Regions from separate parts of the Homo sapiens genome. Here all the other regions are linked to region 2. The links come from fine-mapping of genetic effects on gene expression. A gene starts in region 2. Each other region holds a variant in brackets. All regions are shown on one strand. Distances are from middle to middle. Region 1 has its middle 18 kb from the start of LINC02487. Region 2 holds the start of RNASET2 (ribonuclease T2). Region 3 has its middle 36 kb from the start of CCR6.

Evidence for each region. PIP is the estimated chance that this variant, and not a neighbour inherited with it, causes the effect.
Region 1: its variant is the best candidate, but not a certain one, in a credible set for the expression of RNASET2 in monocytes (Quach 2016, PIP 0.62).
Region 3: its variant is the best candidate, but not a certain one, in a credible set for the expression of RNASET2 in transverse colon (GTEx, PIP 0.82).

The regions. Positions count from the first base shown.
Region 1 is chr6:167,709,235-167,719,937 of GRCh38, forward strand. No RefSeq gene overlaps it. Among named protein-coding and RNA genes, the nearest start is that of LINC02487, 18 kb to the left of the region's middle. RefSeq lists enhancers at 3,172-3,740, 3,741-4,309. The variant G/A (reference allele first, on the strand shown) is at 5,286.
Region 2 is chr6:166,953,439-166,958,438 of GRCh38, forward strand. RNASET2 (ribonuclease T2) reads right to left here and starts at 3,112. Exons shown (of 9, transcript NM_003730.6): 1 at 2,659-3,112. The coding sequence starts at 2,744. RefSeq lists silencers at 2,878-3,637, 3,678-3,777, 4,048-4,097.
Region 3 is chr6:167,082,185-167,092,887 of GRCh38, forward strand. No RefSeq gene overlaps it. Among named protein-coding and RNA genes, the nearest start is that of CCR6, 36 kb to the right of the region's middle. RefSeq lists an enhancer at 10,197-10,256. The variant C/G (reference allele first, on the strand shown) is at 5,857.

The sequences.
Region 1 (10,703 bases), 760 kb after region 2:
GGCGGTGGAAGGAAAGAACAGAAGGAAGCAGCATGATCTACTGGCAGCAAAGCGGGGGGACCTGGCAGGCCTGTGTGGCCCTTCAGCTCCCGAGCTAAGGACACTCCACTCCACATGATGGGGTGGCCACTTCTCACAGGCGGGGCTCCTAGACCAGCTTCCCGGGAGGGCCAGAGAGTCCTGCCTGACTTTTATGACCCAAGTCAGGAGAGGAGGAAGGAAGGTGAGTGTGGCTTCCTGCTTCTGCACTTTTCTCAAATAGCTTCAGCTGAAAGTATCGGGGGGTGAACCTCATCACCCATCACACCTCGCAGCCTATGAACCAGCCTGGCATCACCCATCACACCCCACAGCCTGTGAACCAGCCTGGCATCACCCATCACACCCCACAGCCTGTGAACTAGCCTGGCATCACCCATCACACCCCACAGCCTGTGAACCAGCCTGGCATCACCCATCACACCTCACAGCCTGTGAACCAACCTGGCATCACCCATCACACCCCACAGCCTGTGAACCAGCCTGGCATCACCCATCACAGCCCGCAGCCTATGAGCCAGCCTGGCATCACCCATCACACCCCACAGCCTGTGAACCAGCCTGGCATCACCCATCACACCCCACAGCCTGGCATCACCCATCACACCCCACAGCCTATGAACCAGCCTGGCATCACCCATCACACCTCACAGCCTGTGAACCAACCTGGCATCACCCATCACACTCCACAGCCTATGAACCAGCCTGGCATCACCCATCACACCCCACAGCCTGGCATCACCCATCACACCCCACAGCCTGTGAACCAGCCTGGCAGTTGCCGGACAGCACAACTCAGACGCCAGGGTTGCCAGTCCCCATTCATGTGGAGAGATGGCTCTAATGGGAACGGGTGGGCAGGTGCCCTGGGGGCAGCCCCGGCTCCTGAAAAGTGTCCATCTGGGGGGCGGCTCTTGAGTCCAGGGTGCCGCTGGGTGCCCGACACAGAGCTAAGTCCTCGATATTCATCATCCTGATCCAAAGCTCTCCCACCTCCAAATAACCTCCCAGACGCACTAGTGAAGGCCCTGGGGAGACGGGAGGAGTTATTTTTAAAAAGAAAAGGAAAAAGAGAACCAGGAGCATTGAGGGCAATGTCATCATCAAAGACGTTCTCTGGGGCTCCAGCAAGCCATGCTGGCCTCGTTGTACAGGCATCACATGGTGACTTCAGGCTCTTAAATATTCTGTCTTCTCTCATGGAAGCTTATCACAGAGAGAGCACGGGCGAGCAATTACCTCCTCCTAATTTCCATCACATCTTGGCACCTTCCATGCAGCTGGGGTTATCTTTGTGATGCACGCTTTTTATGAATAATGAGAGTCATCGGGAAGCAAGTGCTCACCAGGGGACAGACGCAAACAAGTTTCCATCCCTTCTCCCTTTCACACACGGATGGCAACCCCAGTTCCCTTGCTGGGTCTTTCCTGGTGGGTTTTGCAGTCACACAGCCTGCGCCATAGCATGTGTGCCTGCAGACCCCGCACCCGCCGGAGAGAGCCCAGCAGAGCCGTCTTAGTGATGCTGAGAGCCAGCTCCTTCTCTGTGTTTCAAGGAAAAGTTCCCAAAGAGACCTTGCCAAGGAAATGAAGCCTCACTACCTGGAATTTTCATAAAACAAAGGAAGAAACATAGAATTCTAGAAAGTTAGTTGGAAATGTAAGTATAATGACAGGTTTCAGGGGAGTTAGGGATCGTTCTGAACTTTTATAATTCTCAATATGATGGCATTATTATATACTAGGGGAAAAAATCAATGTGACAAAACCAGAATTAAACAGAAATGTCACGTGTTGATGTGCAAATTGGATAATGTGCACAATGAAGTCAGGTCATTAGAATTTCTCCATAAAGGGTAGAAAGCTAAGTCCAATCAATGTTTTTAAATAATTACTTCAAATTCTAGTAAGTGATGGCCTGTCCCTCTGGGTCACCTAAGTATGGTCTATTAATAGAAGTTCACAAAAAAGTGAGGAAGTGAAGAGTAATGATATCAGAAGTAATGATCTGAATATTTCATTTGTATGTTTTGCAGTTGAGGGTTGCTGCGGCGTAGGAGAACAGGCCGCGCATTTGAGGGAAAAAGAAGAATTTGGCTCCAGACTGGCTTCTCAAACAAGCCGTGTAATTACCCTGAGCCTGTGTGCATGTGGAGACGAAGCTGGCTGGGAGAGGAGCTGAATGACATGCGGGAGGCGGTGGGGCTCCTCTTTCCCTCCTTGGGGGTTGACTGCAGCTGAGGTGACTGAACAAAGTTCTTTATTTTTCCTGTAACCCACTATTTATAAAGCTTTCCACTTCTGGCTATTTTCTGAGCCCAGGTAGCTACTTAATTTATGCACTAGACATAATCTGGAAGTGGATTTTCATTTAGGTAACCATGGCAGGCACATTGCCACCATCATTCAGGCTGGTAGCATCCCCACCTGAGGGGTAAGAGACCGAATCATGGAGCGTTTGCACGAGTGGTGGACTCAGGATGGGACCCCAAGCCTTTTGCTTCTAAATCCACAGCTTGTTTCCATGAGAATTCACTTACTGAACTTGCACTGATGTGTTTGTTCACTGCATGTGTGTTGTCTACTAGGTGCTGGGCACAGTTGTGAACTGAAGAGAATCAAAACCCTTCCTTCGTGGAATTTGCACTCCAACAAGAGAAACAGATAAGGAGCAGGAAATAGGAACACAGCGTAGGGTGTGAACAGTGACAGTAAAGCTGGCGGAGGTGCCAGGGAGAGCTGCAATTTGAAATGAAGTGGCCAGGGTAGGCCTCACCAGAAGCCGCAGCTGAGCAGGGGCGCTGAGCAGAGATGTGCTTCCAGGAGGACCCTTCTAGGCAGAGGGAGGTGAGAATGGAGAGATAGGGCCTGGGGAACTGCCTGTTATTCTGAAAGAGAGAGTAAGCCATTGTGGGTATCCCCTTGCTGAGAATAAGCAGAGGTTAAGCAAGGAGACTGAGAAATAGAAGCCCGTTGCATAATGGAGGGGGAATGAGGGTGGCTGGGACTGGTGGGGAAGTTGGAGCAGCAGCGGGCTCTGGGTCTGAACTGTGAAAGCGGAGACAGAATTTTCTGACAGCCTGGATGTGGGCGTGGAGAAGGAAAGGGGCCAGGGTGGCTCCTGGGTTGGAAGTTCCTCCCCTGGACAGGCTGGGATAGGGAGGCTGCAGGTGGCGCGGGCTGGGTGAGGGTCCTCAGTGGGTGCCAGCACAGCCGTCCCTCTCCCATGGACCCGCTGCCTGCTGGCTTCTGCCCGCCCCGCCTCACCCACCCCCAGCACTCAGTGCTCTCCTTGCCTCAGAGCCGGCCTGATTCTGCCAGGCCAGGTGCACTGCCAGGGCTAGGATGTGGATGGCAGGTGGCACGGGCTGGGTGGACAGGGAACACCTGTGAGCCCTCCCATCAGGGAGGCTGAGATGGGGTTCGGAAGATAGGTCCGGAAGAGAGAGGCATCAAGGTCATCAACGCATGAAGGGGTTTAAACCCACAGCCTGGACAAGACCACCAAGAAGGGAAAAACAAGGCCCCAAGGACTGACGCCTGGACCACGGCCACTGCGAGAGGTCGAAGGACCCAAAGGGGCAGCAGAGGAGGCAGACGTGGGCACGCTGGTGGGGAGGCAGCAAGAGCCCTGGAGGGTGGGGCACAGGAAGCCACACAGGCAGGAGGTTGGAAGCAGGCTTGCCAGGCACTGGCCTCCACTTCAGCCCACGGCGTCCTGGGCTGCACTCTTACTACTTACCCAAGTCCAGGGAGCCAGGACCCCTCCCACACAAGCTACGTGAAGCGGGTGACTACTTATATATAGGCATCGAGGAACCGCAGGAGCCCAGGGCTCATAGCCAGGCAGTCCCCCAGGCTCAGGGAAGTGGCTGGGGCAGAGAGGTCTCACCTGAATGTGCTCTATTTGCACTGTGGCTGAGGACCCCAGAAAGCATCCCGCCCTGGGTTTTATACCTTGGCGTTCCAGGACTCACTGGGGTAAAGCAGGCAAGGCCATCCTGGTTTTGGAAGGGCTGGAACAGAGCGAGGCTATTGCAGCCAGCCCCTCCCATCTCAGGACCATGAATTCCCAGCATATTCTGCAGGGACTCGGGGGAGCACAGTGAGAGGTAGAGAGGGCTGGGTCTGTCTGAGGCCATGCAGGCGTCTCCAGGGGCAGAGACCTGTGTATCAGAGGCTGGTGGAAGACACCTGGGAGGAAGCCTAGGAATTGAGCATTGTGGAAATGACCTTTACATTTTACATTATATTTAAAACACACTAAGGGTCCTTCTCCAAATAAAGCCAGACCACAGAAACATCCTGCAAAACCTAATAAAACTGAACAATAAGCAACCAGTGAAAACCAGTTTTAAAACACTACAGTAACATCCAAAAAAGAAAGGCTAGCTTCATGTCATCATCTTTTAAAAGTGAAGTCCAGGAGGAAAAAGTATGGGAATCAACAACAGCCTCCTGTCCCTGAGAAATAGAACCTTGGGGAAGAGGGTAAGCGGATAGCATTCTGAGCTTTTTCACGAATAAACCTAAATTCGAAAAGAAACAACTGGTCAGCAGTTGAAGGAGAGTCTCTGGGGTTAAAGCCCTCACCTACCTCTTACCTCCGAGGAACCCCAGAGATGAGCAGGAGGAGGAGCTGGAGAGGAAAACGAGAGGACCGACTGACCGCAGTTGTCCAGGGCGGAATATTCTATAGCAGCAAACACATTAGGATGGAGGGAAGGAATTGGAAAGAGAACAAGACCCCTTCAGGCACAGGGATCCTCAGGACATCCAGGGGCAACTCCCCCCTGCCCCATCCCCCTCTTTCTCTGCTTCCATGGGGATGGGAGGAGCCCACACAGGGGTCCTTGTATCTGGCAGAGAACAAACTCCTTCCTAAATCGGGGCAATAAGCGGACACCCAAGGGCATCGCCTGCAGAACGGGCTGTGCCCTGAGCTTGCAAGAGTTCCTCCACCGTCCCAGACTACTAACAAAATTGCACAAAGATGAGAGCTTCCAGCTGTACCTTCAAGCCCCACCAGAGCAGGGAGGATACAGAACCCAACAGTCCCAGGGAAGTTTCACATTCTGTTTAGGCAGAGAGAAGATTCACAGGGCTTCCCACGTTGAGTGAGCTGAAAAGGAAGGAAAGCAGGAAGGGAGGGAGGGCGGCTAGAAGAGAGAAAGGCAGGCAGACAGGCACAGGAGTATCTAGACATAGTACAGCTGAGAAGAAAAAAAAAGAGAGAGAGAAATTGC[G/A]TGCAAAACACAAAGGTTAAACCTACTGTTGCAGCATATTGCAAGAAATTTTAAAAAGCTTCCAATAATAAATAATGTGAAAGTTAGCTAAAAATAAAGAGAGTAAGAAGTCGCTGAGAAAAGAATTCAAAAATGAAATGAGACAACTGGAATAAAATGCAAAGAAAAATTGAAGAGATACAGAAACAAATTGAGGCTACTAATTCTTCATTAGATAAATAATACCTATATCAGAAACCACAAGGAGCCGGATAAACACAGCTAAATCCTGATTAGGTACATGCAGAAAGGGCTTATTGATAATCACAGATAATGCAATGAAAGAAAGGACAAGGGAAAAGAAAGGAATTTTAATTGGAACCACAAGAATATTTGAGCGGCTTTCTCTGAATTTTTATAGGTTTTAAAAAGTGGTCAAAAATAACAATTTCATATGATTCAACCTAATTAAATATGAAGATGAGCCCAATACAGGGACAACCGGTATATCTGAAACAGAAATAAATAGAACAGAAAAGAATATATAGATAAAATTGGAAAGATGTTCCTCAACAAGCCAAGTCTGCATCTGCAGATTAAAGGGACATTTTTCCCCTGTTCTAGGAACAACCGGCTCACAACCATTCCTCACCGAGACACGCCCGAGTGGGGTCACTGAGTCTCCAGGGTGAGAAAATGTCATGTGAGTGTCCAGGCTGGGGAAAAGCCTCCTACGAGGCAGAGGTGTCCCCTGCCCAGCTACGCTCACACCAGGCATTCCAGGTCAGGTACCGGCTCCTCCTGAGGGAAAAGACACCCAAGAGTGACGGCGGACCCTTGAACAGCTCGTGGGGTAGCAGTGTCGACGCCCCATGCAATAAAAAAAAAATCAGCTTAACTTTTGACTCCTCAAAAACGTAACTCCTCATAGCCTACTGTTGAGCAAAAGCCTTGTTGATAACATACACAGTTGATTAATACCTATTTTATACGTGATTTATATCATATACTGTGTTCTTATAATAAAGTGAGCTAGAGGAAAGAAAACGTTATTAAGAAAATAGTGAGAAAGAGAAAAGACATTTACTATTCATGAATTGGGGATGGATCGTCATGAGCTCTTCATCCGCGTCGTCTTCACGCTGGGGAGGCTGTGGAGGAGGAGGAAGAGGAGGGTGGCAGAGGGGGAAGAAAATCCACATATAAGTGGATCCGCACAGCTCAAAACCCTGTTGTTCAAGGCTCAGCCATACATAGAACCTGCTAAGGTGTATTCTCAACCACAGAAGAATTCCATCACTATAGCACCCAGGAGCCCTTCTCGAAAAAAAAAATACTTGATGACAAAAATTTAGCCATACAGCAGTTGAATCATAAAAATGTTAAAATTCAGGCATGAAGAAGCTGGAAGGAAAGAATGCTGAATGCATTTGAATATGGAAGGGTCTCACATGAAATACATGGTAATTGTGGCACGGAACAAAATGTAGATGATATAAAATGCAAGTCTGTAAAAATAGTCTACGAACAAAAGTCATGGGGGAGGAAGAAAAGTGGGTAGGAGATATGAATTGTGCAAATTCAAGGGGAAGAAATCAACAGATCTTTTTAAAGTTATAACATTAGATTTAAAAAAAAAAAAAAGGTTGACCCTAACCCCAACTTTGTAGCTTAACTTTTTGAATTTTAGATTTTTAGGAAAAATCACTAATATCACTTATAAAGAAAACACACATCTTCACTTATCCATTTCCTTCATGTTCAGTTTGAGATTCATTTTCTTTAGTTAAATACAAGTAATGTTAAATCGAATACATGATGTATTTCATTTGTGTAAAATTATTTCTATCTACTCTTCTGGGAGAATATACACATGGCAAAAGCTCTAAAATGATGTTTATGAAACATTAACCGTAGTGATCTGCAAGAAGTGTGGTGATTCCTCCAGAGCTAAAAACAGAACTACCGTTCAACCCAGCAATACCATTACTGGATATATACCCAAAGGAATATAAATCATTCTGCCATAAAGACACATGTGCACCTGTGTTCATACCAGCACCATTCACAGTAGCAAAGATATGGAGTCAACCTAAATGTCCATCAATGACAGATTGGACTCTGAAGATGTGGTATGTATACACCATGGAACACTACACAGCCAGAGTAAAGAGCAAGATCATGTCTTTTGTAGGAACATGGATGGAGCCAGAAGCCATTATCCTTGGCAAATTAACGCAGGAACAGAAAACCAAACGCCACATGTTCTCACTTAGAAGTGGGAGCTAAAAGATGAGCACTCATGGACACAACAAGGGGAACAACAGAGACTGGGGCCCATCAGAGAGTGGAGGGTGGGAGGAGGGAGAGGAGCAGAGAAAATAACTATTGGGTACTAGGCTTAGTACCGGGGTGATGAAATAATCTACACCACAAACCCCCATGACAAGTTCACCTACATAACAGACCAGCACATGTACCCCTGAACCTAAAATAAGAGTTAAAAAAAAAAGTAGTGATTTCCAGATGATGAGACTGGGAATACATTTTTGACTTTTTGTACTTTCTGTTTTCTTGATCCACCCCTGTCCCCTGCCAACAAACAGATAACATTCTCCTAAGCAATAGTTATTTCCTAATGAGAAGAGAAGGAAGTCCTCCAGCAGCAGCCCCGCTCCACTGCTCCTCGTGCCCACCTGGGCTCATCTCCTCCAGGATCAATTCACTCATCACCGTGGTTCACAGCTGGGCTGCTCCTCCCTCTCCACCTTCTTTTTTTAACACAGACCTTGTCCTCTCCAGCAAATTGACATAGTCTGGGAAGATACCTCTTAGTCAAAAATGTCCTTTTGTTAAGCAAAAGACAATAATTACACCAATGGAATACTGATCAGTGAAGAGGTGGCCTGGCTAAATTACAGTGTTTAGAACAAAACTAAACACAGCAACCAAAAGGACTTCAGTAAAGTAATTATGATTATCCACAGAGGTCTGACCTGGACACTGGACAACTCTTCCTTCTGCCTCCACCTCACCTGGGTGCTTGCGCCCGAGGGCACCTGCATAGAACAGGCAACGCACGCGGCACTGAACCTTCATCCCCCAGGGTCCTGTGGAAACCTTGCTATGTGCCAGGCCCTACACTCAGCTCTGGATACACCAGGGCAAATGAAGCAGTCTAGCTAGGCAGACAAACAGACTGTCCAGGTAAACGGGCTGCCATGTGGAAGCACATAACACACACGGAGCCAAGGCGTCTCGCACTGGGCCAGTCTAAGCTGAGTCCAGGGCTGTGGAAAGAGGGTGGAGTGGAGAGAAAGAGGAGACAAGGCAGATGGAACAAGGGGAGAAGCTCTGTACCTCACAGTCAGGTGCTCTCTACCGTGTATCCAATAGCTATTCTTCTCTTTTAATCACAAAACTCCTATATGTTAGAAACAGTAAGGTGCCCTTCTTAAGAAACTAAATTTCCTGGCTCCCTAGCAATAGAAAGTTGTTGGGTGGGGCTCCCAGGAAAGCCACTTGAAGGGGACAGATTCAGCTAGTTGGAATGCAGATGTGATGGCTACAGCTGCAGCGCCATTTTGCAACCATGAGGAAATTTGGAGACTAGAAGCTACACATTAAGGACTATGGAGCAGAAAGACAGAAAAATCTGGATCCCTAATAACAAGCAATGGGAGTGAGATGAAGGGCAACAAGCCAACCCCAGACTGCCTACCTCTGGGTTTCTTCTATGTAAAAGAAATATCATTTATCCAGCTGAAGACTCTCTTAGGTGGGATTTCTGCTACCTGCAGCTGAACCTAATCCTGAGTGATCTAGCTTAACAGCCGTATTAAAAGGTTAGCTATTTTTAGCATGATCACCGTTACCCTAACTCCTCATCTATTTCCCTTGCCCTAGGCTCCTACAGAATTTATACTTTGCACTAAATAATTTACTCTGGAATTATTTGTATATTTATTATTTATTAACTAACTGCATGATGGAGTATTCCCACCCTACAATAGGCTCATAAACTCCATGCATGAAAATAAACATCATTTATCCAAGCCTACCTCAGGGCCGAGCACATGATAGGTGACATGGTTTGGCTGTGTCCTCACCCAAATCTCCTCTTGAATTATACCCCCATGATTCCCTCATGTTGTGGGAGGGACCCAGTGGGAGACAGTTGAATCATGGGGGCAGTTTCCCACATACTGTTCTCGTGGTAGTGAATAAGTCTCTCAAGATCTGATGGTTTTATCAGGAGTTTCTGTTTTTGCCTCTTCCTCATTCTCTCTTTGCCTGCTGCCCTCCATGTAAGACAGGACTTGCTCCTCCTTGCCTTCCGCCATGATTGTGAGGCTTCTCCAGACACGTGGAACTGTAAGTCCATTAAACCTCTTTCTTTTGTAAATTGCCCAGTGTCGGGTATGTCTTTATCAGCAGAGTGAAAACGGACTAATACAATGAGCTACTCCCTAAGTGCTGGCAGGACTGACACCATGATTCCCCTTCCTTTATCTGTCCTCTTGGTCACAGCTGTTTTGCTAAGAGGAGGGAAAGCATGTCTTGTGATCCACTCACCAGCCCTGTGATGAGGGTCTTATATCCGCGTGGTAGAGATGAGGAAGCTGAGGCTCAGAGATGTCAAGTCACAGACCCAGGGTCACTCGGCAAGAAAACAGCAGAGCTGAGTTTCACAGCCCTGAGCATGCTGGCCTGTCCACACCACCGCAGGGGCCTCCTGGAATTCACGGTGTCCATGTCCCTAAGGAACTAGTTTTACTCTGAGGAAGAGGTTTGGTGGGTGCACATTTCATTAGAGGGTGGGAACATGAAGATTATTTTTATTTTGCTATTTTATGTTCAATCTAAAACAGACGGAAAGTCTAATTAACTCCCACGCCTTGCCTTGCCATCCCCGGGCAGTGGTCACCTCACGGAGGAACAAGAACCTAAGACCACATGGAATACTATGCAGTCATAAAAAAGAATGAGTTCATGTCCTTGGCAGGGACATGGATGAAGCTGGAAGCCATCACCCTCAGCAAACTAACACAGGAACAGAAAACCAAACGCCACATGTTCTCACGCATAAGTGGGAGTTGAACAATGAGAACATGTGGACACAGGGAGGGGAAGATCACACACCAGGACCTGTTGGGGTGGTGGGCAAGAGGAGGGAGAGCATTAGGACAAATACCTAATGCATATAGGGCTTAAAACCTAGATAAGTTGATCAGTGCAGCAAACCACCATGGCACACGTATACCTAGGTAACAAACCTGCACGTTCTGCACGTGTATCCCAGAACTTAAATCAAAATTTTAAAAAAAGAACTGGGGACTTGCATCTCCGTCCTTCCTGCCTGTCGCCTGGCAGACCCCGTCGCTGAAGGCAGCAGTTGGATTTGTCTCGTTTAGTCGCTGCCTTTCTCCTCTTTCTGAA
Region 2 (5,000 bases):
TTTAGAAGGGAAGATTCCAAGTAAGAAGATCAAGTTGTCACACATTAGCTTTTGTAAATAATTGAGTCCTGTTGAATTTGTATAGAATTTACAGTTAAGATGGTATGAAAACTTAGTTGTACATTGGAACTAATTATGCAAGCTCTCAGTATAAAAGGAAAAAAGGGTTCAAGCGTGGTGGCTCACACCTATAATCCCAGCACTTTGGGAGGCAGAGGCAGGAGGATTGCTTGAGCTCAGGAGTTCAAGACCAGCCTGGGCAACATGGTGAAACCCTGTCTCTACAAAAATTAGCCAGGTGTGGTGGCATGAACCTGTAGTCCCAGCTACTTGGAAGGCGCTGAGGCAAGAGGATAGCTTAAGCCCAGGAGGTGGAAGATGCAGTGAGCCCAGATCACATCACTGCACTCCAACCTGGGCTACACAGCCAGACCCTGTCTCAAAAAAAAAAAAAAAGGATGAGCTGCAGGGTGAGAATTGGAGCTGGTAAAGCATTTTTTACCCTTGGGTGAAAAACCTTATTTTACATAGTCGGAACCTGAGGCTGGAAAGCTTAGCAACACCCAGGAAGATGAGACTATCAATATGCTTACAACAAAACTACCAAGACTCAGACGTTTGTAACAAACTCTCCATCTAAAACCAGGCAGAGTGATGTGACTGCAGGAGACCCCCTCCCACACAGATGCCCCCCTCCCCTATTCACGGAGAAAGTAATGGAGAAGCTAAAGAAAGTCAAAGAAGAAAGAAAAATCACCAAGGTCTCAAAACCAGTTAGAACTTGGGAAAATGCCCGCTGACCTATGAAGCCCTCGTGGTCTGAATCAACCATGTTCTCGCAAATCTTGCCTGCTCAAGTTTGTCCGATCATATCAGTTGCATGAATTATGGGCTGGGGTGGGGGATCCACATATGACAGCCTGTTTTATGCTAATGTTTACTTCCAGCCAGACATCATTCCAAGTTACATTCTGTACCTTAACTGATTTCTCCTGAAGCCAACTCTGTGAGGCTGACTGTTACTATTTCTACTTTACAGATGAGGAAACTGGGGCATAGAGAGCTCAAAGGTCCCACACCTGGGTGTGAACTAGCAGTTTCCACTCAGCCAGCAAGGGCCAGCATGCCACAGACTTCCCCAGTGAGAGGCTCTGAACCTCATGGCCAATAAATAAGGACATAAATGTAGCTCTTTTTCAGAAAATACACTTTCCGGAACACTGAAATATAATGCTACATTTTAATGTACATGATTAAAAATATATACCTAAGGTGTTTAAAAAGTAAAACCCTGGCCGGGTGCAGTGGCTCACGCCTGTAATCCCAGCACTTTGGGAGGCCGAGGCGGGCGGATCACCTGAGGTCAGAAGTTCGAGACCAGCCTGGCTATTAAAAATACAAAAATTAGCCAGGCGTGGTGGTGTGCATCTGTAATCCCACCTACTCAGAGGCTGAGGCAGGAGAATCGCTTGAACCCGGGAGGTGGAGGTTGCAGTGAGCTGAGGTCACGCCACTGTACTCCAGCCTGAGTGACAGAGTAAGACTGTCTAAAAAAAAATAAATAAGTAAAACCCACCTTTTCCACACCTACTATGTAAGTAAGAAATCCTATTAACCCGATCATTACCCAAATAGAAAGAAATAATATGGTATTCAAATATTGGTATCTTCCACAGAATTAAAGTTGGAGTTCTTTGCAGCACCGCCTGTTTACCCCTAATTAATTTGGGCGGCTGCCACACACACACACGCACACACGCACGCACACACGCACGCACACACGCGCACACACGCACGCACGCACACACACGCACACACGCACACACACACACGCGCACACACGACACACACGCACAGACGCGCACACACGACACACACGCACACACACGCACGCACGCACACGCACACGCACGCACACACACACGCACACACAAACGCACACGCACACACACACACGCGCACACACACACGCGCACACACACACACACGCGGAGGGCGAGCCAAGGGAAGGGATTCAGAACAGGATACTCAAAAAGAGGAAGAACCGTCGTTTCACCACCCGCCGCAGTGAAAGCTGAAATTAAGTGTCCCCTCCACGACTTCTTCGACCTCTGAGAGAACTTCGAGTGCAGGAACAGTGCTCCACCAAGCCTGCCACCTGCTTTGTCGCGTCCTAGGCTGGGAGCAGTCTGTGGGATGAGTTTCCAGTCCAGCTCCAGGCTGGAGTGTACCCAGGACCTCACCCTACCCCCTACTCCTTCCCAGGGGTCACCCCGGGGAGTGTTCAGGGCTCCCCAACCCACTTCTTCCCAGGAGTCACCCCAGAGCGTGCCCAGGGCTCCCCCCAACCCACTCCTTCCCAGAGGTCACCCCGGGGCGTGCTCAGGACTCCCCTCATCGCACTCCTTCCCAGAGGTCACTTCTGAGTGTGCTAAGGGCTCCCCCCAACCCACTCCCTCCAGGGGTCACCCCGAGGCGTGCTCAACTTCCCAACTTCTTCCCAGGGGTCACCCCGGAGCGTGCTCGGCTCCCCCCGCCCTCCCCAGTCGCTGCCCGGGGCTCAGCGACCGCCGACCCCGAGAGCTGCAGCCTTCACCCAGTGGAAAGCTCTAGGGCCCGGCTCCCACGCTCCCCACTTTACCTCGCAAGGTAACTCACCGCAGGCGCTTGTCCGCACCGCCCAGGCAAAGCAACGCCAGGCAGAGGCAGCCCAGCAGGGCCCCGCGCAGGGCTGCAGGGCGCATGGTGCCGACCTGCGGAGAGAACGCTGCCAGCTGCCGCTCCGGCTCCCACTTCCCACCTGCTGCCCGAGGAAGACTTCCGGGAGAAACGCTGTCTCCGAGCCCCCGCGCCGCCGCGCTCCCTCCGCTGCAGCAGCGGCCACCGGGTGCGCCCGGAGCCCTGGGACGGCCTAAACCAGTATCTCGCGGGCCCCGCGCCGGGCTCCGGGAATGGCCGCAGCAGCCCTGGCGACCCGGGCCCCTCGGAGCTCCCCTTCAGGATCGTGCACCAAGCGCGCACGTCCCGGGCTCTGCTTCGCGACCCACAGCGACCCCAGCTCCTCCACGCTGCAGCCGCCGTCCGCCCACGACCACGGTCAGTCGCGTTGCTCCCAGCCCAGGGCGCCCTGCGGGCCTGCACCGGAGCAGAGAGCCACGCCCCCAGGACGGCACGCCCCCGCCGGTGGACACGCCCCCCAGAACGGCACGTCCCCGCCCGGCGTTCACGCCCCGCCCCGTGGTTGGCTCAGAGAGGCCGAGGCAGGAGCAGCTCCGCGGGCCTTGAGGGCGTGTCAGGCGGCTGTGTTCCTTCGCCACGCAGGCGCCCCGCGCCTTTTCCCGCAGCTCTGCGCCACTCCCACACTCCCGGGTCCGAGCTAACCTAGACCACCCGTGAGGACCGCCCTCGGGGGGACCGCCCGTGTCTGCGCCATCCCCCGCCAGCAAGTGGGCGTGCGGGCCCCAGGGCCACTCTACTCTCCAGGGACAGCCCCCAGCCCGACCCGCGCACCCTGCAGGCCCGCGGTCCGCACGCAGCACCCGCTTTCAAAAACTGCGCCCTGCAAGCTGCCCGGGAGCTCCTGACTGCAGATGGTGCTTGGCCGCCCAGGCTCCCCGCAGCCTCCCGCCACCTCGGCGCTCCACTGCGCAGCCCGAGGGACGGCTCCAGAATTAGGAGGGGACCTACTCGGGTCACTCTCCTGGAAACCTCTCCAGTCTCCCGGTGCTAGGTGCTGGGAGCACCAACATTCCTAGAAGGGCCTGGCCCTCACCCAGCCCTGGGCCTCACCTGCCCCTCCCCGCGGGCCCCAGGAGCCCGGAAGTCATCTCTGTGGGGGCAGCAAAGAGCCGCCTCGGGGCGCGACCTGGGAAGTCATCTTGTGAGGGATCCCCTCCCAGAGGGACGGGCCACCCCCCACGGATGAAGGGGACTTCATGTCAGCCCCACCTTGGCGTAGCCAGGGCCAGTCCCATAGGCCCGGTCTCCTCCCCCAACACCCTGGCCTTCCCAGCCCTTCAGAGGCACGGGTTCCCCTGCACCCGCGGCCCCGCCCACGGGCTGTGCACCCGGCATTGTCTCTGCAGATGTTTCTCCTCTTTCCCTTCCCTGTCCGCACACCCACAGCTAGTTAAGGCTATTCCTATTTACACGTCGAGTAAACTGCGCCTTCCTCGGGGTCCTCTGCCACTGGTAACTGTCTAAATAGCAGGTGGGCCTGTAGCCTGCTCTCCCACAGGCCTGGACCTTGCCTGCATGCATTACCATTCTTTGAAACAAAATATTTAAATGATTAATCTGTTTTTCCCACTAGACTGCAAGGCAAGGCCCATGTCTATTTTGCCCACCTTGAGTCCCTGCCACTGAGCACAGTGGATGGGGGACAGTCGGTGCTCAATAAAATGCCACCTGTGGAACAGATGGGGGGGGAAAATGGCTGACACCTCCTTAGCTCCTCCAGGACCTCCTACAGGTCATGGTGTTATTCTCGTTCTCCTTTTCCCTAACGACTTATTTGTTTCTTTCCGGCTCCTTTCATTCCTTCCTCTCAAGAATATAGGCACACGCCACAGTTCTTTTTCTCTTTTCTTTTAAGCTAAAAAAATAATTTTCTTAAAACAAAAGTGCTTCCCAGAATCCTCATTTTCCTTTAAATCACAGTCCGGTGTGTTTAAACAGCCCCTTGTCAAGGAGGGCTGTTGTGACCACTGCCAAATATAAAGCAAATCTGGACTCGGGGAGGAGTGGTGTTATGAGGACCATTATTGCAGGGGCCTGGGGGCCTTTTGTCCCTACTAAAAATACAAAAATTTGCTGGGCGGGGGTGGCACGCGACTGTAATCCTGTGGCAGGAGGAGCGGCAGACAAAACCTCTCAGACACCGAGCTATAGAAGGAAGGGCTTTATTCAGCTGGGAGCATCGGCAAGCTACTGCCTTAAAATCCGAGCTCCCCGAATGCACAATTTCTGTCCCTTTTAAGGGCTCACAACATTAAAGATTT
Region 3 (10,703 bases), 130 kb after region 2:
AAATAGGGAATCCTTTACCCATTTCTTGTTTTTGTCAGGTTTGTCAAAGATCAGATGGTTGTAGATATGCGGCATTATTTTTGAGAGCTCTGTTCTGTTCCATTGGTCTATATCTCTGTTTTGGTACCAGTACCATGCTGTTTTGGTTACTGTAGCCTTGTAGTATAGTTTGAAGTCAGGTAGCATGATGCCTCCAGCTGCGTTCTTTTGGCTTAGGATTGACTTGGCGATGCAGGCTCTTTTTTGGTTCCATATGAACTTTAAAGTAGTTTTTTCCAATTCTGTGAAGAAAGTCATTGGTAGCTTGATGGGAATGGCATTGAATCTATAAATTACCTTGGGCAATATGGCCATTTTCACGATATTGATTCTTCCTACCCATGAGCATGGAATGTTCTTCCATTTGTTTGTATCCTCTTTTATTTTGTTGAGCAGCGGTTTGTAGTTCTCCTTGAAGAGGTCCTTCACGTGCCTTGTAAGTTGGATTCCTAGGTATTTTATTCTCTTTGAAGCAATTGTGAATGGGAGTTCACTCATGATTTGGCTCTCTGTTTGTCTGTTATTGGTGTATAAGAATGCTTGTGATTTTTGCACATTGATTTTGTAACCTGAGACTCTGCTGAAGTTGCTTATCAGCTTAAGGAGATTTTGGGCTGAGACGATGGGGTTTTCTAGATATACAATCATGTCATCTGCAAACAGGGACAATTTGACTTCCTTTTTTCCTAAGTGAATACCCTTTATTTCCTTCTCCTGCCTAATTGCCCTGGCCAGAACTTCCAACACTATGTTGAATAGGAGTGGTGAGAGAGGTCATCCCTGTCTTGTGCCAGTTTTCAAAGGGAATGCTTCCAGTTTTTGCCCATTCAGTATGATATTGGCTGTGGGTTTGTCATAGATAGCTCTTATTATTTTGAGATACGTCCCATCAATACCTAATTTGTTGAGAGTTTTTAGCATGAAGGGCTGTTGAATTTTGTCGGAAACCTTTTCTGCATCTATTGAGAAATCATGTGGTTTTTGTCGTTGGTTCTATTTATATGATGGATTACGTTTATTGATTTTCGTATGCTGAGCCAGCCTTGCATCCCAGGGATGAAGCCCACTTGATCATTGTGGATAAGCTTTTTGATGTGCTGTTGGATTTGGTTTGCCAGAATTTTATTGAGGATTTTTGCATCGATGTTCGTCAGGGATATTGGTCTAAACTTCTCTTTTTTTATTGTGTCTCTGCTGGGCTTTGGTATCAGGATGATGGTGGCCTCATAAAATTAGTTAGGGAGGAATCCCTCTTTTTCTATTGATTGGAATAGTTTCAGAAGGAATGGTACCAGCTCCTCCTTATACCTCTGGTAGAATTCGGCTGTGAATCCATCTGGTCCTTGACTTTTTTTGATTGGTAAGCTATTAATTATTGCCTCAATTTCAGAGCCTGTTATTGATCTATTCAGAGATTCAACTTCTTCCTGGTTTAGTCTTGGGAGGGTGTATGTGTCAAGGAATTTATCCATTTCTTCCAGATTTTCTAGTTTATTTGCGTAGAGGTGTTTATAGTATTCTCTGATGGTAGTTTGTATTTCTATGGGATTGGTGGCGATATCCCCTTTATCATTTTTTTATTGCGTCTATTTGATTCTTCTCTCTTTTCTTCCTTATTAGTCTTGCTAGCAGTCTATCAATTTTGTTGATCTCTTCAAAAAACCAGCTCCTGGATTCCTTGATTTTTTTTTAAGGGTTTTTTTGTGTCTCTATTTCCTTCAGTTCTGCTGTGATCTTAGTTATTTCTTGCCGTCTGCTAGCTTTTGAATGTGTTTGCTCTTGCTTCTCTAGTTCTTTTAATTGTGATGTTAGGGTGTCAATTTTAGATCTTTCCTGCTTTCTCTTGTGGGCATTTAGTGCTATAAATTTCCCTCTACACACTGCTTTAAATGTGTCCCAGAGATTCTGGTATGTTATGTCTTTGTTCTCATTGGTTTCAAAGAACATCTTTATTTCTGCCTTCATTTCGTTATGTACCCAGTAGTCATTCAGGAGCAGGTTGTTCAGTTTCCATGTAGTCGAGCAGTTTTGAGTGAGTTTCTTAATCCTGAGTTCTAGTTTGATTGCACTGTGGTCTGAGAGACAGTTTGTTATAATTTCTGTTCTTTTACATTCGCTGAGGAGTGCTTTACTTCCAACTATGTGGTCAATTTTGGAATAGGTGTGGTGTGGTGCTGAGAAGAATGTATATTCTGTTGATTTGGGGTGGAGAGTTCTGTAGATGTCTATTAGGTCCGCTTGGTGCAGAGCTGAGTTCATTTCCTGGATATCCTTTTTAACTTTCTGTCTCATTGATCTGTCTAATGTTGACAGTAGGGTGTTAAAATCTCCCATTATTGTGTGGGAGTCTAAGTCTCTTTGTAGGTCTCTAAGGACTTGCTTTATGAATCTGTGTGCTCTTGTATTGGGTGCATATGTATTTAGGATAGTTAGCTCTTCTTGTTGAATTGATCCCTTTACCATTATGTAATGGCCTTCTTTGTCTCTTTTGATCTTTGTTGGTTTAAAGTCTGTTTTATCAGAGACTAGGATTGCAACCCCTGCCTTTTTTTGTTTTCCATTTGCTTGGTAGATCTTCCTCCATCCCTTTATTTTGAGCCTATGTGTGTCTCTGCACATGAGATGGGTTTCCTGAATACAGCACACTGATGGGTCTTGACTCTTTATCCAATTTGCCAGTCTGTGTCTTTTAATTGGAGCATTTAGCCCATTTACATTTAAGGTTAATATTGTTATGTGTGAATTTGATCCTGTCATTATGATGTTAGCTGGTTATTTTGCTCGTTAGTTGATGCAGTTTCTTCCTAGCATCGATGGTCTTTACAATTTGGCATGTTTTTGCAGTGGCTGGTACCGGTTGTTCCTTTCCATGTTTAGTGCTTCCTTCAGGAGCTCTTGTAAGGCAGGCCTGGTGGTGACAAAATCTCTCAGCATTTGCTTGTCTGTAAAGGATTTTATTTCTCCTTCACTTATGAAGCTTAGTGTGGCTGGATATGAAATTCTAGGTTGAAAATTCTTTTCTTTAAGAATGTTGAATATTGGCCCCCACTCTCCTCTGGCTTGTAGAGTTTCTGCCAAGAGATCCGCTGTTAGTCTGATGGGCTTCCCTTTGTGGGTAACCCAACCTTTCTCTCTGGCTGCCCTTAACATTTTTTCCTTCATTTCAACTTTGGTGAATCTGACAATTACGTGTCTTGGAGTTGCTCTTCTCGAGGAGTATCTTGGTGGTGTTCTCTGTATTTCCTGAACTTGAATGTTGGCCTGCCTTGCTAGATTGGGGAAGTTCTCCTGGATAATATCCTGCAAGTGTTTTCCAACTTGGTTCTATTCTCCCCGTCACTTTCAGGTACACCAATCAGACGTAGATTAGGTCTTTTCACGTAGTCCCATATTTCTTGGAGGCTTTGTTCATTTCTTTTTATTCTTTTTTCTCTAAACTTCCTTTCTCACTTCATTTCATTCATTTGATCTTCCATCACTGATACCCTTTCTTCCAGTTGATGGAATTGGCTACTGAGGCTTGTGCATTTGTCACGTAGTTCTCATGCTGTGGTTTTCAGCTCCATCGGGTCCTTTAAGGATTTCTCTGCACTGGTTATTCTAGTTAGCCATTCGTCTAATCTTTTTTCAAGGTTTTTAACTTCTTTGCCATGGGTTCGAACTTCCTCCTTTAGCTTGGAGTAGTTTGATTGTCTGAAGTCTCCTTCTCTCAACTCATCAAAGTCATTCTCCGTCCAGCTTTGTTCCGTTGCTGGTGAGGAGCTGCATTCCTTTGGAGGAGGAGAGGCATTCTGATTTTTAGAATTTTCAGTTTTTCTGCTCTGTTTTTTCCCCATCTTTGTGGTTTTATCTACCTTTGGTCTTTGATGATGGTGACGTACAGATGGGGTTTTGGTGTGGATGTTCTGTTTGTTAGTTTTCCTTCTAACAGTCAGGACCCTCAGCTACAGGTCTGTTGGAGTTTGCCAGAGGTCTACTCCAGACCCTGTTTGCCTGGGTATCAGCAGCAGAGGCTGCAGAACAGCGGATATTGGTGAACAGCAAATGTTGCTGCCTGATCATTCCTCTGGAAGTTTTGTCTCAGAGGAGTACCTGGCCGTGTGAGATGTCAGTCTGCCCCTACTGGGGGGTACCTCCCAGTCAGGCTACTTGGGGGGTCAGGGACACACTTGAGGAAGCAGTCTGTCCGTTCTCAGATCTCCAGCTGCATGCTGGGAGAACCACTACTCTCTTCAAAGCTGTCAGACAGGGACATTCAAGTCTGCAGAGGTTTCTGCTGCCTTTTGTTTGGCTATGCCCTGCCCCTAGAGGTGGAGTCTATAGAGGCAGGCAGGCCTCCTTGAGCTGCGGTGGGCTCCACCCAGTTCGAGCTTCCAGGCCACTTTGTTTACCTACTCAAGCCTTGGCAATGGCGGGCACCCCTCCCCCAGCCTCGCTGCCAACTTGCAGTTTGATCTCAGACTGCTGTGCTAGCAATGAGTGAGGCTCCGTGGGCATGGGATTCTCTGAGCCAGGCACAGGATATAATCTCCTGGTGTGCCGTTTGCTAAGACTGTCGGAAAAGTGCAGTATTAGGGTGGGAGTGACCCGATTTTCCAGGTGCCGTCTGTCACCCCTTTCCTTGGCTAGGAGAGAGAATTCCCTGACCCCTTGTGCTTCCCGGGTGAGGCGATGCCTCACCCTGACATGAAACTATTTTTTAAGGGCATAAACAGTGTCTACTTTTACACATGATTTCCAGCAGTAAATCAAAAAATGACAGTTAAGAAAACAAAATAAAACAAAAACAAAAACAACTCATAGTCAACTTATAAAGCAATCAATCAATAGAACCAGAATTCAAGATGGCCCAGATGTGGGAACTCTAAGACAGGGGCTTTAAAATAACTCTGATGAGGCTGTGCATGGTGGCTCACACTTGTAATCTCAGCACTTTGGGAGGTCAAAGTGGGCAGATCACCTAAGGTCAGGAGCTCGAGACCAGTCTGGCCAACATGGTGAAACCCCATCTCTACTAAAAAGACAAAAATTAGCCAGGCGTGGTGCTGGGTGCCTATAGTCCCAGCTACTAGGGAGGTTGAGGCAGGAGAATTGCTTGAACCCAGAAGGCAGAGGTTGCAGTGAGCCAAGATTGCACCATTGCACTCCAGCCTGAGCGACAAGAACAAAAACTCCATCTCAAAACAAAACAAAAACAAAAACAAAACAATACAAAAAAGCCCTGAAGAATTTGTTAAATGATCTAGAGGAAAAGGCATATGGCATACATGAACAGATGGGAAATTTCAGCAGAGAGATAGAGAGTATAAAAGACATGTGGGAATGCTACAAAAAATATATAAGACATAAAGAATTCCTTCAGAAAGCTTATCAGTGAACTAGTCTCAGCTGAAGAAAGATTAAGGAACTTGAAGATAGGTCAACAGGAATCATATAAAATGACACACAAATAACATAAAATGGGCTGGGCACAGTGGCTTATGCCTGTAATCCCAGCACTTCAGGAGGCCAAGACAGGTGGATCACAAGGTCAGGAGTTCAAGACCCGCCTGGACAACACAGTGAAACCCCATCTCTACTAAAAATACAAAAATTAGCCTGGTGTGGGGGCATATGCCTGCAGTCCCAGCTACTCGGGAGGCTGAGGCAGGAGAATTGCTTGAACCCAGGAAGCGGAGGTTGCAGTGAGCCAAGATTACACCACTACACTCTAGCCTTGGCGACAGAGTGACACTCTTGTCTCAGAAAAAAAAAAAAAAAAAAAACAACAAAAAAAAAAACATAAAATAGAGGGAAAAACTCTGTCTAACAAGGCCT[C/G]CAAGAGCTGTGAGATCATCTAATGTACATGCAGTTGGAGTCCCAGAACAAGCAAACAAACAGCAAGGAATAAAACAGAAGAAATATTTAAAGAGATAATTTGCAAATATAATGCAAGACAGCAAACCTCAGGTCCAAGAAGCTCAGGGAATCCCAACAGTATAAATACAAAAACAAATAAAAAATCTCCATACCAAAAAAAAAAAAAACCCCACCTAGACACATAAAATCAAACTTTTTAAAACCAAAGATAAGGAGAAAATGTAGAATGCATTTGGGAGTTGTGGGGGACATTACATACCCAAGAAGAAAGATAATTGTAATAGATTTCTTGTCAGACATGTAAGCTGGATGTTAATGAACTGACATCTTAAAGTACTGAAACAATTAATCCAGAATTCTATTATTCTATTACAGATCCATTAAAATATTGTTTTAAATTAAAGGCAAAAATAAAAGCTTTTTAGACCCTGAAAAACTAAGATAACTCACTGCTGAGAGACTTGTGCTACAATAAATGTTAAAGGTAGTTCTTTAGGCTATAGGAAAATTATACCAGATAAAAATTTGGGGTTACACAGAGAAGTGAGCACCAGAAATAGTAAAAGTGGATATTAAAAACATTTTCTCATGGCTGATTCTTTAAAAGACTGTCAACTATGGTGGCCAGGTGCAGTGGCTCATGCCTGTAATCCCAGCACTTTGGGAGCCTGAGATGGGCAGATGGCTTGGGTTTAGGAGTTTGAGACAAGTCTGGGCAACATGGTGAAACCCTGTCTCTACAAATAATACAAAAATTAGCTGGGCATGGTGGTGTATGCCTGTAGTCCCAGCTACTCAGGAGGCTGAGGCAAGGAGGTTGAGCCCAGGAGGGTGAGGTTGCAGTCAGGCATGACTGCACCACTGCACTCCAGCCTGAGCAACAGAGTGAGACCCTGTCTCAAAAAAAAAAAAAAAATTGTTAACTAAATTAAAAATAGTAAACAGGGTTTATGACAGATGTAGAAATAAGATACATGAAATCATTTGCACAAAGTGGAGGAAGGAGTTGGAACTATCTAATGTCATAAATGCAAACTACTAAGGAATGATAATATTCTGAAATTGTCAGTTTTTTTTAGGCAAAGTAATAATTTCAGATCAGTTGCTAGTATCAATGAACTATCAATGTTTGAAATGTTTTCAGTATAAGTAGTTCAAGGGTCAGTATGAAACTTAAATTTCGAGGGAAAAAAACTAACATCATTTAATTCTGTGGTTTTCAGATTTAGCTAATATCAGAATCACCTGGAAGAGTTTGTTAAGCAAAGTTTCTGAGCTTTCTGGGCACTATCCCTGAAAAGTCTGATGTCACACATCTCCTGGAGGTAACGCCTCTCTGTTTAACAAGCAGCCTCTGCAGCCAACAGGTTTTGCTTCTCTGGGGAGGAAGTTGACCTCAGCTGCAGTGACCTTCCTGGAGAATTAAACAGAGGGGTGCAGATCCTTACACATGGCCCTCTACCAGGATGACGACCTCCCTCTAGAACAGGAGATACTAGTTTTACTGGTTAATGGCAGAGCCGAGTCAGGGGAGGCCAGAACCAGGCAGAAGTAACTTGAGTTTTCAGCTCTGGAGAGACTGCAGCCTTGGTCAAAGCCAAGAAAATCCCCGTCCTTGCGTTATTGAAGTGGTCAGTGTGAAGAAACAAGAACTCCCCAGACACTGGATCTCTTTGATTGATCTAAAGACCTTTCACTCCAGGCACATGGGGCCCATGAAAACTGTGGGCCCAGCAGCATATCACACCAGCCTCTTGGTGTGGTGCTCTCTGTGGTTCAGAATAGGAGCCTCTCGGGTCACTGTAGGACCCCACCGGCCCCTTTCCTCCAGACATAGGCCACAGATCAGCAATGTATTTTAAGCGACCCCGTTGGCGTTGGGCCATGTGTGTGGCATCTCTGTGGCAGCAGGTGGCCACATGCTCCTGAGTCTCAGACTGGAGGTGAATAGGGCAGCAGAAGAAGTCACCAGTGTTGAGCCAAGTCACAAAGAATAGGGCCAGTGGCAAGGGTGATGAATGGGTCAAGGGGATTGTAGTCAAGGAGCTGTGGGCCAGGGCTGGGCTCCATGCAGGATTGTGCCTGGGGGACCATCGTGGGAAATGGCTTCCTTTGAGCTCCTCAAATGGAAGCAAGAGTCAGCCTGGTTTTCTTCCCTCCAGGGAGCAACACAGAAAGGATTTTCTTTCTTCCACACAAGAGGAAGTTTTTAGGCTCTGCCAAGTAACCAAAGTAATAGAAACTGTGATGTCTCCAGAACTAGCCTCCAACTTCCTCCAGGTGGCAGGAAGGGGAGCAGCCACCTCGCCTCTGTGGCTGCTTTGTTTTTCCCTTCTTTTCTTGTTCCTCCATAGCCTACTTCCTCCATTTTGGGGTTCCTGTATGTAAAGTACTCATTGACCCAGAGATTGTATCTCAAAACCTTGTACCCAAAGGAGCAATTTTCCTGTGAACGTTCCCAAGACAGCGTTCCCAAAAGGTGTTACCAGCCTCAAGTCAGCAATCATAGTGTGGAACGGCGGTTTAGTTGTTGAGTGGAATCTCTTAGCAATCTTCCGACAAGCTGGATCAATCAAGTGAAGCTAGATTTCTATTGTTGATTTTGTTGTTTGTATGTTCTCATGACTTAGGCATGACCTATGTGCCTCTCCTCCTCCAGCTCTCCAATTTTCGCCATCCACTGTGTGTCAGACTCAGGCCTTTGAGGTGCCTGCATCTCTATATACCACACATGAGGCAGGTAGGGCTCAGAAAGATTAACAACTTTACACACATCACCCCATTAGGAAGTAGTAGGGTCAAGAGTCGAGATTCAAATGCTGATATAATTCCCAAGTCTGTGCTCTTAACCAGCAATATCATCTTCAAGTTCAGCAAAGAGTGTTTTGTGTTTCTCTATCCAAATGATGCCCATCTACTCTGTACCATCTATGAGCGTACACCATCTATACTCTCATATCCTCACGTGCCCATTTTTCCTGTAATTCCACTTCTTAGGCTTGTTCCCTTTAATACTATAACCAAGCGAGGGAATTTCCACTTTAAAAGGGAATTTGAAAGAGTAGAGTCTCATGTGACTTCCATTCATTTCCCTGACCTGTAGTTGTCCAAGGGACAGAGGGCGTCTTTGCATGTTCAGTCAGTCTAAACAGCTTTATTTGGCAAGATGTTTACCAGTTTCCATGGTCTTTGGCAAGATGTAAACATGGGCAGAGGGTCCCGAGTAAGAAGAAGTTGGAAAGGAAGTTGCCTGGCCACCGATGAGGCTTCGCGTAACTGTTCCACATAAAGGTCGTCTACTGTTTTTTTTTTCTCTTTCAAGTTAAACCTCTTCCCCTTTTTAGATGACAAGTCACAAAGCTGATCTACCCCAGATTGTGGCAACCTCACCCTATCTATACATCAGCTAAAGGCTGATCGAAGATCAGGTCTAAAGATTGTTGCAAAAAATGAGATAAGCTTTTAAAAAACCCCAGATTCTTTAATTTTGTATGTCAGTCATCAAGTCTTCATTCACACGCTCACTCAGCAACTCTTTCTTGAGCGCCTGCTGTCTGCGCTAGACCCTGGGTAGGCAGGAATGCAGGCTAAGCGCCTTCTCTATGGGGCCTTACATCCAAGCGACAACGTGCCAGGAGGGGACCAGTGCCCAGGAGAAAAGGAAGCAGCATCAGAGCCAGGAAGGGAGTTGGGATCGGGAAGCTCTTTTAAGCTGGGTAGTCAGGGAAGCTTGAACTGAGACACCCAAGGGGCCGACAGTGTGGTTGTCTGGAGAGCAACCTGGGAGAGAAGCAGCAAGGACCAGGGCCCTAGAGCAGGGACCGGCTGGACAGATCCCAGACACAGTGTGATTGCCGGGGCAACTGGCATAAACAACAGAGCTGGGAAGGACACAGGGCAGCGGGAGGAGAGCAGGGCAAGGGCGAGGGCTCCACGGGGCCTCTAAGTCATGGGAGGACACAGGGCATTATCCTGGCGCATGTGGGGTGCCCTGGGGAGCTCAGAACAGAATCCAGACATGATTTGAATCATGCTAAAGCTTTGCCTTCTCTGGAGGGCAAAAGTTTGGGGCAGGAAGGAGTGGGAATGACTGGCTATGAATGTGGGATATACACTATTAATACATCCTGGAGATGGCCAGGAACATTTGCTGATTTTGCTGACGTATTTGATGTGGAGAAAGAATCCAAGCACGACTGCAAGGTTTGGGGCCTGAGCAGTTGGAAGGACTGACTGTTGCTTTGATGATAGCACATGTCGGAGGAACAGGTCTGGGGAGTGAAATTGAGTTTGGCTTCAGATCTGAGACTCTTCTGAATACTCTGAGTGGGGGTCGGCGTCTGGAGTTCCACAGGAGGCTCTAGGCTGAAGACAGCGTGTAGGAGTGGAGTCGGTTAATATGATTATTAACTGGATAGTGTCTTCCCAAAATTCATGTTCACGCAGAATATTATTTGGAATATTATTTTATATTATTTGGAAATAGAGCCTTTGCAGTTGCAATTAGTTATGGGACTCAAAGTGAAATTATCTTGCATTCAGGGCAGGCCTTATGAAAACAGGAGAGAACGCAGAGACGGAGGGTTTGTGAAGACGGAGGCATAGATTGGAGTGATGCATTCACAAGTCAAGGGGCACCAGGAACTGCAGACCCCACCGGAAATGGGAAGCGAGGCTGGGGACGGTTCCCTGCACAGCCTCCAAATGGAGCCACCCCTGACAGCACCTCGATTTCGGACCTCTGGCCCCCGAAGAGTGAGGAAGTAGGTTTCCGTTGTTTTAAACCACATTGTTTGTGGTACTTT